Linked DNA regions of Homo sapiens. The protein of the gene in region 1 interacts with the protein of each later gene in a biochemical or structural test. Each region holds a gene or a part of one and is shown on either strand. Other genes may lie near its edges.

Evidence for each region. Proteins that work in one complex are often made in the same cells at the same time.
Region 2: the proteins of ALG2 (region 1) and SRI form a complex in vitro, tested with the Homo sapiens proteins (one study listed by BioGRID).
Region 3: the proteins of ALG2 (region 1) and ANXA11 form a complex in vitro, tested with the Homo sapiens proteins (one study listed by BioGRID).

What each region holds. Positions count from the first base shown.
Region 1 is NC_000009.12:99,215,524-99,219,423, forward strand, and holds the end of ALG2 (alpha-1,3/1,6-mannosyltransferase ALG2), read right to left. Parts: intron 3,314-3,900; coding exon 2,411-3,313; 3' UTR 902-2,410; downstream 1-901. UniProt on the Homo sapiens protein: Mannosyltransferase that operates in the biosynthetic pathway of dolichol-linked oligosaccharides, the glycan precursors employed in protein asparagine (N)-glycosylation.
Region 2 is NC_000007.14:88,204,615-88,210,038, reverse strand, and holds the end of SRI (sorcin), read left to right. Parts: coding exon 1-56; intron 57-586; coding exon 587-700; intron 701-1,473; coding exon 1,474-1,532; coding exon of another isoform or gene 1,533-1,550; exon of another isoform or gene 1,551-1,844; intron 1,845-3,534; coding exon 3,535-3,561; 3' UTR 3,562-4,924; downstream 4,925-5,424. UniProt on the Homo sapiens protein: Calcium-binding protein that modulates excitation-contraction coupling in the heart. Contributes to calcium homeostasis in the heart sarcoplasmic reticulum. Modulates the activity of RYR2 calcium channels.
Region 3 is NC_000010.11:80,150,389-80,153,537, forward strand, and holds the end of ANXA11 (annexin A11), read right to left. Parts: 3' UTR 501-3,149; downstream 1-500. UniProt on the Homo sapiens protein: Binds specifically to calcyclin in a calcium-dependent manner. Required for midbody formation and completion of the terminal phase of cytokinesis.

The sequences.
Region 1 (3,900 bases):
CTTCAGGCAAGTCTTTCACCTCTCTGAGCTTGTGTGTAAGATGGGGGATAATCATACTCACCTCGGAAGACTGATGGGAAGAGGCAAATGGACAGTAAACAGCAAAGTCTTTCTAAACCCAAAGACCTGTACAACTACAACTGCAGTGCTGCAGAGGGAGTTGTACTGAAAAAACATTACACAAAGAATTTGGTTAGGGTGAGGGCAGACTGAAGAATAGTAAAGTGGTTGGACTTTGGAATCAGAGGGCCTTGAGATTCTGTCCATTCTTCAAGGCCATGGGACGCAGGCAACTTGCTTAACTACATTCATCTAAAAGGGAAGAATACCTACATCTCAGTGAATTGTTGAGGATTAAGCATCTGCTATGTATGTATCTCCTTTCCTGCCCTGCACAAAGTAATTACCAGAATTACTATGGATAAGGCCCCAACAATTCACCTTCAATGTTTCATGCTTCTACTTTCCCTAACTTCAGCTTAGTTTTGGAAGGTGTGAACACTTCTTAAGGGCAAAGTTCCATTCTAGGGTCCAGGAACCAGGAACTAATGGTCAGAAGCTGGAAGCTCATGGCAGGCAGGACTCCATCCCTCCCAGACCTGTGAAATCTTATTGTCACTCACTCCGGCTTAGGACAATGAAGTGAAGCTAAAATCAGGGTCCATGAACCCATGTAGTCCATTTGAAAGGATTTGCATAAAAATGGTCAAATATGCAAATGTTTAGTGCTGCTTAGTAAGGTAAGCACCATGTTGTAGGTCACAGTGTGGCCAAGTCTATCTGTGCTAAACTCCATGGTAAGAGCCACCAGGCTTCCTGGAAAGGCTGCATTTCTCAGAAACACATGAACCAAATCATACCTTCTGTACTACATGGTAAGCTTTCACAATGCCAAAGAAAATGGAATGCAACAGAACTTTTAATCCCATAAAAGACTCAATATATTTGGCACCCTCATTTTATAGTACTCCTTTTTGGTACAGAATCATTTTGCCAAAATACTCCTGTGATACAGATGCACATGATAAACTGTAAAATGGAATTTCACCCATTGAAGAGCCCCAAAAGAACAATATGGTAGTGCAGCATGAACTAACATGCAATTTCTAATTTTCAATATCCCCAAATTGCAAAATACTAATAGCTAATATATATACTATATGCCAAGTATTAAGTACTTTGTAATATTATCATAATCTGTTATAACCGCACTATGAGGAAAGTAGAATAGTACAATTATCTCACTTTGCAGATGAAGAAGCTGAGGTATAGAGATCAATTTACACAAAATCATATAGGCTGTTAGGCTCTCAAGTCTAGCTCTTAAGAGTTGATAAATGTGGAGCCTTTGGCTAGTAAGCTTTGCTACTTCTGGAAATGAATTTAGCCTTAGAAGTATGTTGAAAACTACTGTTTATGATTTGCTGTTAGACCAACAGGTAAACAGTGAACTATAAGTCAGTGTCACGAAAATATCAGTGTCATGAAAAGGCTAGAGTACATGGAGGGGGAAGATAACTTCTGGCTTGGGAGGTGGCCAGAGGGTCAAAGAAAGCTTTGCAGCAGTGGCATTTGAGCCAGGCCTTGGAAGATAAAAAACATTTGTGTCCTATACTTAGTAGGAGCTTGGTCAAGACAACACAAATATTAACAAAACTAATGACCTAGATGACATTAAGAAATATACCCTAAACAAGATGCACAACACATGTGTGACAATATTCTTGCTTCATTTCAATATCCACTTTACCCTAGTGTTCTGATTTCCAGTTTGGTTGTCATATCCATGTTCGTAACAATACCAAAATAGATTATGGAGACCAAAATCTAATACTGTTTCTTTTTTATGATAAACACCTTTTATTATATCTCAGTGTGCAAAAATACAAATTATCTTAAAAAAAATACAGAGCACTCTCGCTATGGATCCAGGCAAAGACAGGACAAACAAAAATTCCCTAACAGATGACAGTGAACACTTCGGTGGATTGAATCTGGGAACTACAATAGCCCTGCTCTCATTATACTATGAAGCCAAATTAATCAACTTTGATAATGATACACACTTAAACTATGAAAACCAATTAAGGCACAGTATCATTCAAAATTTATAGACAGAAGAGCAATAATCCCGAGAAAATATAATTAAAATACTCTGCTGAACATGGAATGACACCACATTTGTAACTTAACACTGGCAAAATTTGGAATGATTATAGCATAAAAGACATGGTTTTTCTGAAAAGTGGACAGGGAGGTGTGGTATATAGGAAAGTGGCTCACATTCAAGACTCAAGTTTATTTTTTAAAAGATCTCTTCTGCATTAGATTCTAGGTTTCTTTTTTGGTTTCAAAACTGGGTCTACAATCCATAAAAATGACATTAATGGAGATCTTAAAAACAATCTGATTATACCAGCAGTTTGGTAACATATCGGTAGAGCTGTTCTGTAAATGCTTCAGGGGAAAATTTTTCCTTCACTCTGGCTCTTCCAGCCAGGCCCATGGTGGCTTTTAAGGAAGGTTCACGGATGAACTTTTCTATTGCTTCTGAGAAGTGCACCGGGTCAGGCTCACACAGAAACCCTGTGACACTGTGGTCAATGGACTCCAAGGGTCCACCCGAATTAACAGCAATGACTGGGCACTGCATGTACATGGCTTCCAGAGGGACAATGCCAAAGTGCTCATTGCTTGGTGTGTAAAGCACACACGTGCAGCTGTGGAGGAGGGAGATTTTCTGTTTGTCTGAGAAAGACCTCAAGAAGGTCACATACTGGCCAAGGTCGGACTGTTGGACCATTTTCTTCAATTCCTGATAATGTTCCACATTCTCCAGGACTCTCTCGTCATAACCACCTGCCACGATCAGATGAACCCTCTCCCAATCTTGGGATGTCAATCTTCCACGCAGCTGTACTAGGGCTTCCAGTGCCAAAGTCAGATTTTTCTTCCTTTCGTATCTGTTGATGGAGAGCAGCAGGAATTTTTTCCCCTTGGGGACTAGGTCATCCAGCTTTTCAGGAACAACTGAGTCAAAGCTGGTGACATTTAGAGATGGATAGAGGACATCAGGGTCTATGTGAGACAGGGACTTGAATGTTTCCTTAAAAACAGCAGCTGTGAACTGGCTGTTGACTAAGATGCAGTCTGCCATGCCTGTGGTGTATTCCTCTATCCAGTCAATTGGGGCCCTGTATAGTCGTTTAAGAAAAGAATCTCTCTTGGTGAGAAGCAGATCTGGGAAGTGACAGTAAAATAGGATCTTCTTCCGCCGTCTAGCCAGCCTGAACACTGGGATACAGGCAGACACCTAGCCAAAGCAAAAATCAACAGCGGATAAAGTGGTCAACTCAACTTCAACCAAACCAAAAACACAGACACCCACCCCGTCTGGCTAGTCTGTGGGCTCCTCATGGGCAATGTCTGATTCTGTTTTATTCCCCAAGACTCTCACCCAGTACCATATGCCTGGTGTACAGAAGGCTACAGACGTTTGCTAGATGTGTGCTAAACATTTAAAGCTTCAAGTCCAGTGATTTCCTCTTGTATAGTGCTGTCTAATAGAAATCTAGTAATATTAAAAATGTTTTTAAGGGTGAAATTAATTTTAACATATTATTTACCGAAAACATTATCATTTCAAAATGTAACCAATACTAAACAGTATTAATGAGATACTTTATATATACATATATTTCACATTACATCTTCAAAATCGGTTTGTATTTTAACTTTAGCACATCTCAGTTTAGACTAGCCACATTTCAAGTGCTCAACAGCCACATGTGGCTAGTGGCTACCATACTGAACAGTGCCGCTCTAGGATCTTTCTCCTTCTAAGGAACTGAATGAATGAACTATAGTAGTTTAGAGCACAAGCTCTAGATTCAAGACTGC
Region 2 (5,424 bases), on another chromosome or scaffold:
TGACAGGAGTGGAACAGTAGACCCACAAGAATTGCAGAAGGCCCTGACAACAATGGGTAGGTATGGCTTACTAGAACTCTCCATTCATTGGTAGAAGTAAGTTGATTTTTATTTTTAAAACCAGGCTGGGTGCAGTGGCTCACACCTGTAATCCCAGCACTTTGGGAGGCCAAGGAGGGTGGATTGCCTGAGCTCGGGAGTTCGAGACCAGCCTGGGCAACACAGTAAAACCCCGACTCTACTAAAATACAGAAACATTAGCTGGGCGTGGTGGCATGCACCTGCAGTCCCAGCTACTCGGGAGGCTAAGACAGGAGAATCACTTGAACACAGGAGGCAGAGGTTGCTGTGAGCCGAGATCACACCACTGCACTCCAGCCTGGGCGAGAGTGAGACTCCCTCTCGTAAATAAATAAATAAATAAATAATTGCTACCTGAAGGCAGTTTCTGTTTTCTTAGAAATTGTGTGTGTTCATAATTAATATGAGTCTGCAGTCTTAAAAAATAAAATAGTGCTTGATTATTTTATTTTTTAATGAGCTTCTGCAATCCTTTAACCTTTTTACTGGATGGCTTTTCTTTTAGGATTTAGGTTGAGTCCCCAGGCTGTGAATTCAATTGCAAAACGATACAGCACCAATGGAAAGATCACCTTCGACGACTACATCGCCTGCTGCGTCAAACTGAGGGCTCTTACAGGTGAGTTCTATAAGGTCGTGTCATCACCACAAGCCAAGACACAGTTTTTATTACATTTCATCTCTCAGTGCTTCTCAACTTTTATTCTTCCCAAATTTTTTCTTGCTTTAGTAGTTTTTTTCAGATTACTATTAAGCATATCTGGCAAAATAATTTTTTGGTTTTTTTTCCAGAATTTATTTTAGATTAGTAAGTAATCTGCCATTAAAATAAACAATTAAATTTTACTAAAATGTTCTAAAACACAATCAGCTAACTTGTGCATTTTTGATCAGATAATAATGAATTTTTCCCCAGAATGTGAAATATTTGGAAAGAGTGAAATTAAAATAAAATCCTTTTCTATAGGGCAGAGCTGAAATGGTAGAGAAACTGATTACAGCCCATTTGTTATATTGGGGACTCTTTATCTGTTTCTTAAGCAGTATCTTTGTTATTAAGAAGCTAGAAATTCGGTGCTTTTATCACAATGAAGTAATGGCCATGGAAGTTGCACAGCTTTTACTGACTTTGGGTAAGGTATTTTCTCCAGATCTAAAAAAACAAAAAAACAAAAAACACAGCTGGCCAACTTCTGCCTGTTACTTTGTTGCATATTAAATCTTTTACTATTCATATAGTTGGCTTCTTTGCTTTGGTCTTTTGTTTATGTTAATTGGTTGCACAATTTAAATGTTACTGCAATGTGAATTCAATGCCAAAATAACTAACTTTTATGATTTTAGAAAAACCATTTAAAGAAAAACCATAAATTTTACTGTGTTGTTTTACAGACAGCTTTCGAAGACGGGATACTGCTCAGCAAGGTGTTGTGAATTTCCCATATGATGATGTAAGTCTTAGAAATTAAGAGATACAGTAGATGAAAAGGATGTACACCAGATGGGTATCCCTTTGAAATTAGCTGTTAAGAATATCTTAAGGTTAAGGATGCCAGAGACATAAGGGATTCAAAAGTTAGAAAGAGTTATCATCCAGAATTTATTAATTTCATTTATTAGTCTTAACTATAGTGAGACCATGATTTGATTTGCATTCAGAGACCTGGGTTCAAGACCCAGCTTGTTGTATTTATTAGCTGGGTCACTTAAGCAGGTTTCTTAATTGCTGTGACACTATATGAATAAAGAAGATATAGTAGTAATGCCTTTTTCACTGAGCCATTGTAAGATTTCTATTAGAAATGCCCTTGAAAAACACTATGCAGATATACTATCTGCTTTTGTCTTCTGTAAACAAATCATGTCAGTCACTGAGAATAGATAACAGCTCAATAGTTTTGCATACCTATGTTCTTCATTGAGGGCATAAGGCAGGCAACAACTTAAATCACAATTTTTTTTTTTTTTTTGAGATGGAGTCTCGCTCTGTTGCCCAGGTTGGAGTGCAGTGGCGCAATGTCAGCTCACTGCAACCTCCACGTCTCGGGTTCTAGCGATTCTCCTGCCTCAGCCTCCTGAGGGACTATAGGCATGTGCCACCATACCTGGTTAAGTTTTTTTGTATTTTTAGTAGAGACGGGGTTTCACTGTGTTAGCCAGGATGGTCTCGATCTCCTGTCCTTGTGATCTGTCCGCTTAGGCCTCCCAAAGTGCTGGGATTACAGGCGTGAGCCACTGCTCCCGGCTAAATCACAATTTAAAACAAGTTATTTACTAAACAGCCAAACTAAACAAGGGTAGGGTAAGGCCATGTAATCAGTGTGAACATAACCTAGTGCCATCTTTGATGGCATTAGCTGGATGTATATAACAAAGCTAGAGAGATTGGTTACTTGTTTCTTCAGTTTTTGCTCAGCCATTGATTTAAAAACAAAAAACAAACAAACAAAAAAACTTGTAGAATTGAAATGACTGTAATCACTGAATATTCCATTCTCCATTACAAAATATAAGATGCATGTATTTTTGGTTTAGCAGCTGCTGCAGTTATAAGTACACTTTTAAAAGCTTAGTATGTGTGTGTGAATATGCTTATTTTACCTGCTTAAGGGTGTGTTCTCTTTAACATGCGTTAACTTCTTAGTTGACAGTCCCCTTGCTGTTTCTAAAGATCAGAAGGCTGCCTGGGGAATGGAAAGAAAGACCATGGGCTTTGACTTCAGATGGGGCTACTTAAAAGATTTCTAAACATCCTGATCCTTATTTTCCTTTTCTCTAAAATAGGGATAATCACCTTGACCTTGCAATAGAGCTGCAAGGGTTAGCAGTGCACAATACCTTAGTAGTGTAGGGAACACTGATAGAGCAGAATCTATTGCTTTATGTTTAGCGGGGAAGCCAACATTTCACAGCAAATACTGGTATTTCTAATCTCAGGTATCTGAAGGGTTAGCTGTTCTGTTTCTGTGCATACATACACTTGCATGCTACAATTTGTTTTAATAAAGCAGATTTTAAGGCAATAAACTGTTTAAGGTGTTCCATTAGAGTAATGGGGTAATACTGTGTGGTTTGGAAATCCCCACGTAATACAACAGTATAAACTCCAGTTGTTTGTGTTTGTGGTAAGTGTCTTTGACCACGGCCATTTCTAGTCTTGGATATTATTTGGAATTTAAATAATTATTCAAATAATTATTTAAATTATTTATCCATTGAAGTTATATCTGCTTTCTCTAAGAAGTTTTGATGTGAGAAACCCTGTGGATTTTATATTAGACTGCTTCCCTAAAAAAAGGAAACTTTTCCATCTATCATTTACTCATATCTTAGAAAGTTGTAGGGGTTGTTTTACCCGTGTTCAAATTAGAAAACCAAATGTAAGCTGCCAGAAATAGGCTGTGCCGTATAAGTGCTTTGAGGTCTGTCATATAATGCTGATTTTTCTTTCAGTTCATTCAATGTGTCATGAGTGTTTAAATCAAGAGGAAGCTGCATGAATGTAATCAACATTCCAACTGGAGCTCTCCTTTGCTTGTCCTCTTTGCCTTCGGTAATATGTATAAACTTACATCACGACTTTCTCTTAACAGCTGTTGTAAAGTTTATTACTTTATGTACAACTGAAGTTTTGTTTTAGTTTTGATAATAAATTCTTTGGAACTTTAATAAGATCTAGTCTGTTACACCATTTAGAACTTTCCTGAGCCATTATCAGTCATGCCTTATTTTCTTGCTAAAACTCTATGTAAATTTAAGTATGCAAAATGTTTAAGTCACATTATTTATTTTTCATTGTGAGACACTAAAAACTGTTAATCAGACTACAGCTGTTATCTTTCCTCTCCTACAAAGAATACTCCACACATAAAAACTTAGGTAAATGACATAGACGCACTTGGGTGAAATAAAACAACAAAAAAGGTAATCCAGTAATCCACGTCAGGATTCACCTTAGAAGTTTAGCACACGCCCTTCAAAACCTGTTGAATAATTTGATTGGCAAATACTATCTGTCACCAAGTCCCTTTTTGTCATCTATTTAAACCTTTGTTAACTCTCCTTAAAAATCTTGTACATTATAAGCTTAACTATATAAAAAGAAAATTGATAGAAAAAGACTAAGGGAATATATGGAAATATTAACAATGTTTATTTTGGATGAATGGAATTCTAGATGACTTTAATTTTCTTTATATCAGTATTTTTCAGATTTTCTATATGCTTTCCTTTTAAAATCAGATTTTAGTTTTTAAAATACTGATACATCCATTTTGATATACCATGTATTCACACTTTAAAAAATACACATAGCAGAGTATCGGAAAGTATGTACCAAAACATTGATCTGGCTACCACTGGGAGTCAGGATCATGAGTTCATCTTCTTCCTTCTTACTGCTTTTCCAAACATTCTCCAGTAAGCAGGTACTACATTTATAATGGAAGGAATTTTTTAAAAAATTTTAAGCTGTACACTTTCAAGTAAGATCTGAATTCTAATGCTGGCTTGTGCCTCTTACTATGTGGTTTGGTCATTATAGATAATGCCCAGTTTCAGTTTCCCCATCTTTGAAAAGGAGATAATATGTTATCTCTTGGGAGTAGTTCTGAATATGAAGTGTGTTGATACAAGAAGCACTGACAATGTTTCTGTTTCTTAAATTTAAAACTGGCCTGGTTTGCCTTTTTTATCAAGAGAGCTTAACAGATAAAAAATGAAATTAGTCTATTTTCTACTTGCCAGCAGAGTATCTGTCTTATTTTAGGATGCAGTGTGAAACTTACCATTCAACTGAACAACTAGTTGTCAACTAATGAAAATAAAACATTTTCTCTAAGCATCTTTAGCCTCATTTCACTATTAATTTTTTAAAATATTGTTAAAATATATATTATTCAAACCTAACATATAACTATGGCAAGTTAGTTAGCCCAGGTTACATATCAGAATGTGAAGCAGCCTGCTATATATTACACAGTGACTATAGATTGCATCATCTCCGTATATTGTCTGTGAGGCCATAAAGCTCTGCTTGAGTCTGGGCTATCTAGAAAAGGGCCAAAAAGGGGCTCAGAGGATTAGGAGGCAGGGAGCTCACCTTCAGTGTCCTAGCACCTGCTGTTTGGTTTCAACTCACCAGGGTCCTCTGAGGAAATCATAGTTTAAGGAAATGGTAATTTCCTGGTTGAGGATAAGCAGTAGAGAAGGCCCTTGCTGAAGGATATGGGCCATATTTGAACAAGTCCCAAGGTGTGCTGCATCAGTTGTGGTTCTGAATTGGCTTTGGGGTGAATACAAAAGCATCCCTCTGACATTATATTAGTTTGTTCGCACACTGCT
Region 3 (3,149 bases), on another chromosome or scaffold:
AGCCTGAAGGTCAGGCAGAGGTGACAGCATAGGGCCCTCTCAAGTCTTTTTAAGCACATGCCCAGCCCTAGGCATGTGTATGGTCTTTCAGATTCCCAGGAATATGTGGAATCTCTTTAAAGTCCTTATTCTCACCCAAAGAATCTTATTTCCTAGCCTTTCCTCCTGAAGCTTTTCAATTTGTCTCCTGTTTGCTCCAAATGTTATTCCTTCCCCTAGGCATGAGCCACTAATACACTGACCTTGAAACGTCTTTCCAGGCTGCCATCTTCACTTTAGGAGAGCTCCAAATTAGGCAAAATAAAAGAAAGGCATTTGAACCAGTCCTTCAGGGAGCAACAAATCAAATCAAAATCAACATACTTCTTGAAAATAAGGTCTAATCTGCTACCTCCAGTGACAGGAACCTATACAGGGAATGAGGGATATTGTTTTTGATGCTGCTGCCATGCTGGGGAGTGGGGGATGGGGCCAGGGTAAGCTAAAACACAACAAAGCTCTCTTACTAAATCCAGCTTTTATTCTTAGGTATTCACCTGATTGCTGTAAACTTTCAATTCGTTTCCAGAGTTCCCATAAATTTGAGTTTTTGCCACCTTATTTGCTGCTTTTGTGGAAGGACAGACTTGTGGAATTTCCTATTCCATTTCGTTGACCACATTAAAGTTTTAGAAGCTCTCCTCTAGTCTACCCTTCATTTTAAAAAGTCAAAAAGACAGGAAGTGACATATCCAGGGTCACACAACAAATCAGGGGCTGAGCTGAGATCAGAATAAGGATGTTTGACTCTCAGGTCAGAGCTCTTTCTGCTTCAGGACTTCATCAGCTCTTAGTGTTGAGAAGGAGTCAGGCTCAAGCTAAACACCAATATTAGGCCAAGGGGCAGCTTTCCAAGGAGTAGGGGCTGAGGGTAAGAGTCCTTGGTATACCTGGTGGGCTTGACTGACTCCTTTACTGACAGGGGACCCTACATGAGTCCAGGTTGTGGACTGAGTAATGATGTCCCTATCCCTTAGAAAAACACAGGCAGAGAGCTTTCAGATTTGATGGGGGTGAAAATGTAAACCTTTATCTTTCTGAGGACATGTATTTAGCTTGATGTTTCTAGGTCTCATTCCACTCCATCTCGGCCAGGGCAGGAAAGAGCCTACAGCAGAAATAAGGAGCCAGGTCCTAAGGTAGGGCTGTAACTCCCTGCCAAGGCCAACAGAAAATGGGCATGGCATGGCATTAAACCACCACTTTGACCGTGGGCACCTGCAAAGGTTCATCTTTCAGCTCCCTCTTCCCAAAGCTAGGAGTGCCTCATCTCATCTCTCATCACCTGACTGAATTCCAAGCAGACTGTGCCATCTGCTCACCTGCCCTCTGGAGGAACACCTCTACTTTTGCGGTGTTCTCTGTGTGAGCACAGTAGTATTTAGATAAGCGTTAGATTACAGCAGGTTACAGATGCAGTTTCCCAGTCCCCACACCTGCTCAAAATGCATGAGGGTCTGACCGCAGGAACTGCTCTTTAGCAAGCTCCCCTGATGATCCTGATACACACTCAGGCTTGAAAACCACCACTTTAGGACCATCTACCCAGCCACAGGGTGAGCACTCCAAGGTTTCTTTCTTAAATTTTGCACCTGAGACAAATGCCACCAGGACTAGGGTGAGGCGAGTGAGGCTATCTGTCTCAGGTGCAAAACTATTTAATAGTGTTTCCTCCAGCGCCCCCACAGCTGCTGAAAATTCTCTCAGGGCTGAATTCATCTGGTGCTTCTATTTTAGAAGTCAGACTAGATGTGTAGCATGGACTGGCCTTGACTAACATATCCAGGAGGCAGGAGAAGACCCATTGTGTTCTATCCCAGAAAGATGACCTGTAAGGTTGCACATCTTTCTCCCTATCTTTTTTGTCCTAAGCATAATAAACAGTGTTGATCCCAACCTCCCACTGACCTTGGAAGGCAGTAGGTGCCTTTGCCTCTGGGAAGATCATGAGGCATTCATGCAGTCCTCCAGCCCATACTTAACATGGGTTGGATCTCTTGGGAGTGACCATGAGGGCAGCGAGAGGAACAGGAAGGCAGGGAGAAACAGGACTAGGACAAACACAGGTGTCAGGTCCACAACTATGCCAAATGTCATGCCCAGGGTCAGGTTCCAGCCCATGCTGAGGTTCGAGGGGACTGGGTGGATGGGCGATAGCTGAAAGAAAACCTGGCGGGCCATAGGCAGGTAAAATGTAGTTTTATTCAGCAGCTATCTCATCAGCAGCTCTCACACTGTCCACCTTTACCTAGGCTGTCTTCTCCAGATCTGCAGCTCCTCTCAGCAGCCAGCTCTGTGGCTCCTGCCACCCCCATGCTTGCAGGTGCACTCCCTGGCTACAGGGTCAGCGGCTTAACTCTCCCTCTGGGCACAAGCTGAGCCATGTCCTGGCTCCCCTCTATCTATCTGCCAGATGGTCACTCTCCCTTACAGGGGTCAATAGCTTCACTCTCTCTGGGTGCTAGTGCACACCACGTGGAGCCATGCCCATCCGAGCCCAAGAACATCTGTACAGCGTCAGCAGGGCAGTTATACCTTTTCCAAACAATAGTGGCTTTGAGCCAAGTATGAACTTACACAAGCAGGTTATATAACAAGTGGAGTATACGCCTGTGACCTAAACTCGCTGAGTCACTCTGGCCTGGATATCCACCTTGGTCTATTCCTTGACCAAAGCACATCCATGTACTTTACAACAGGTGGTCTCCAAGTGTGTAGACCAGGGTCTCAAACCCAAAGGCCTGCAGGAGCCAAATGGGTGACATGGGCTTAGTGTAATACAAGACGGAGCCTATAGCAAATAAGGAGTACAGGCCTAAAGGGGCAGCTGCAACTCAGCTCCAGCCATGCAGGAATGCAAGCCCCATAGTGCCAGAATTTCTGAGTTTTCAAGAGAAGCCAGAATTCCAGATTTTTAAAAATATGAAATCTCTCAATGTTTAAATGTTGGCAACAAATTCAAATGTCTAAAAACACTTTGGAAACCAAAGTAAATGTGTCTGTAGGTGCAATATTGCCTGCTGGGCACCAGGCTGGGAACTTTGGAGTAAACAGGGCAAGGTAATGTCACAGAATATGGTCACATCAGAGCACATTGGTTCTAGGCCCCA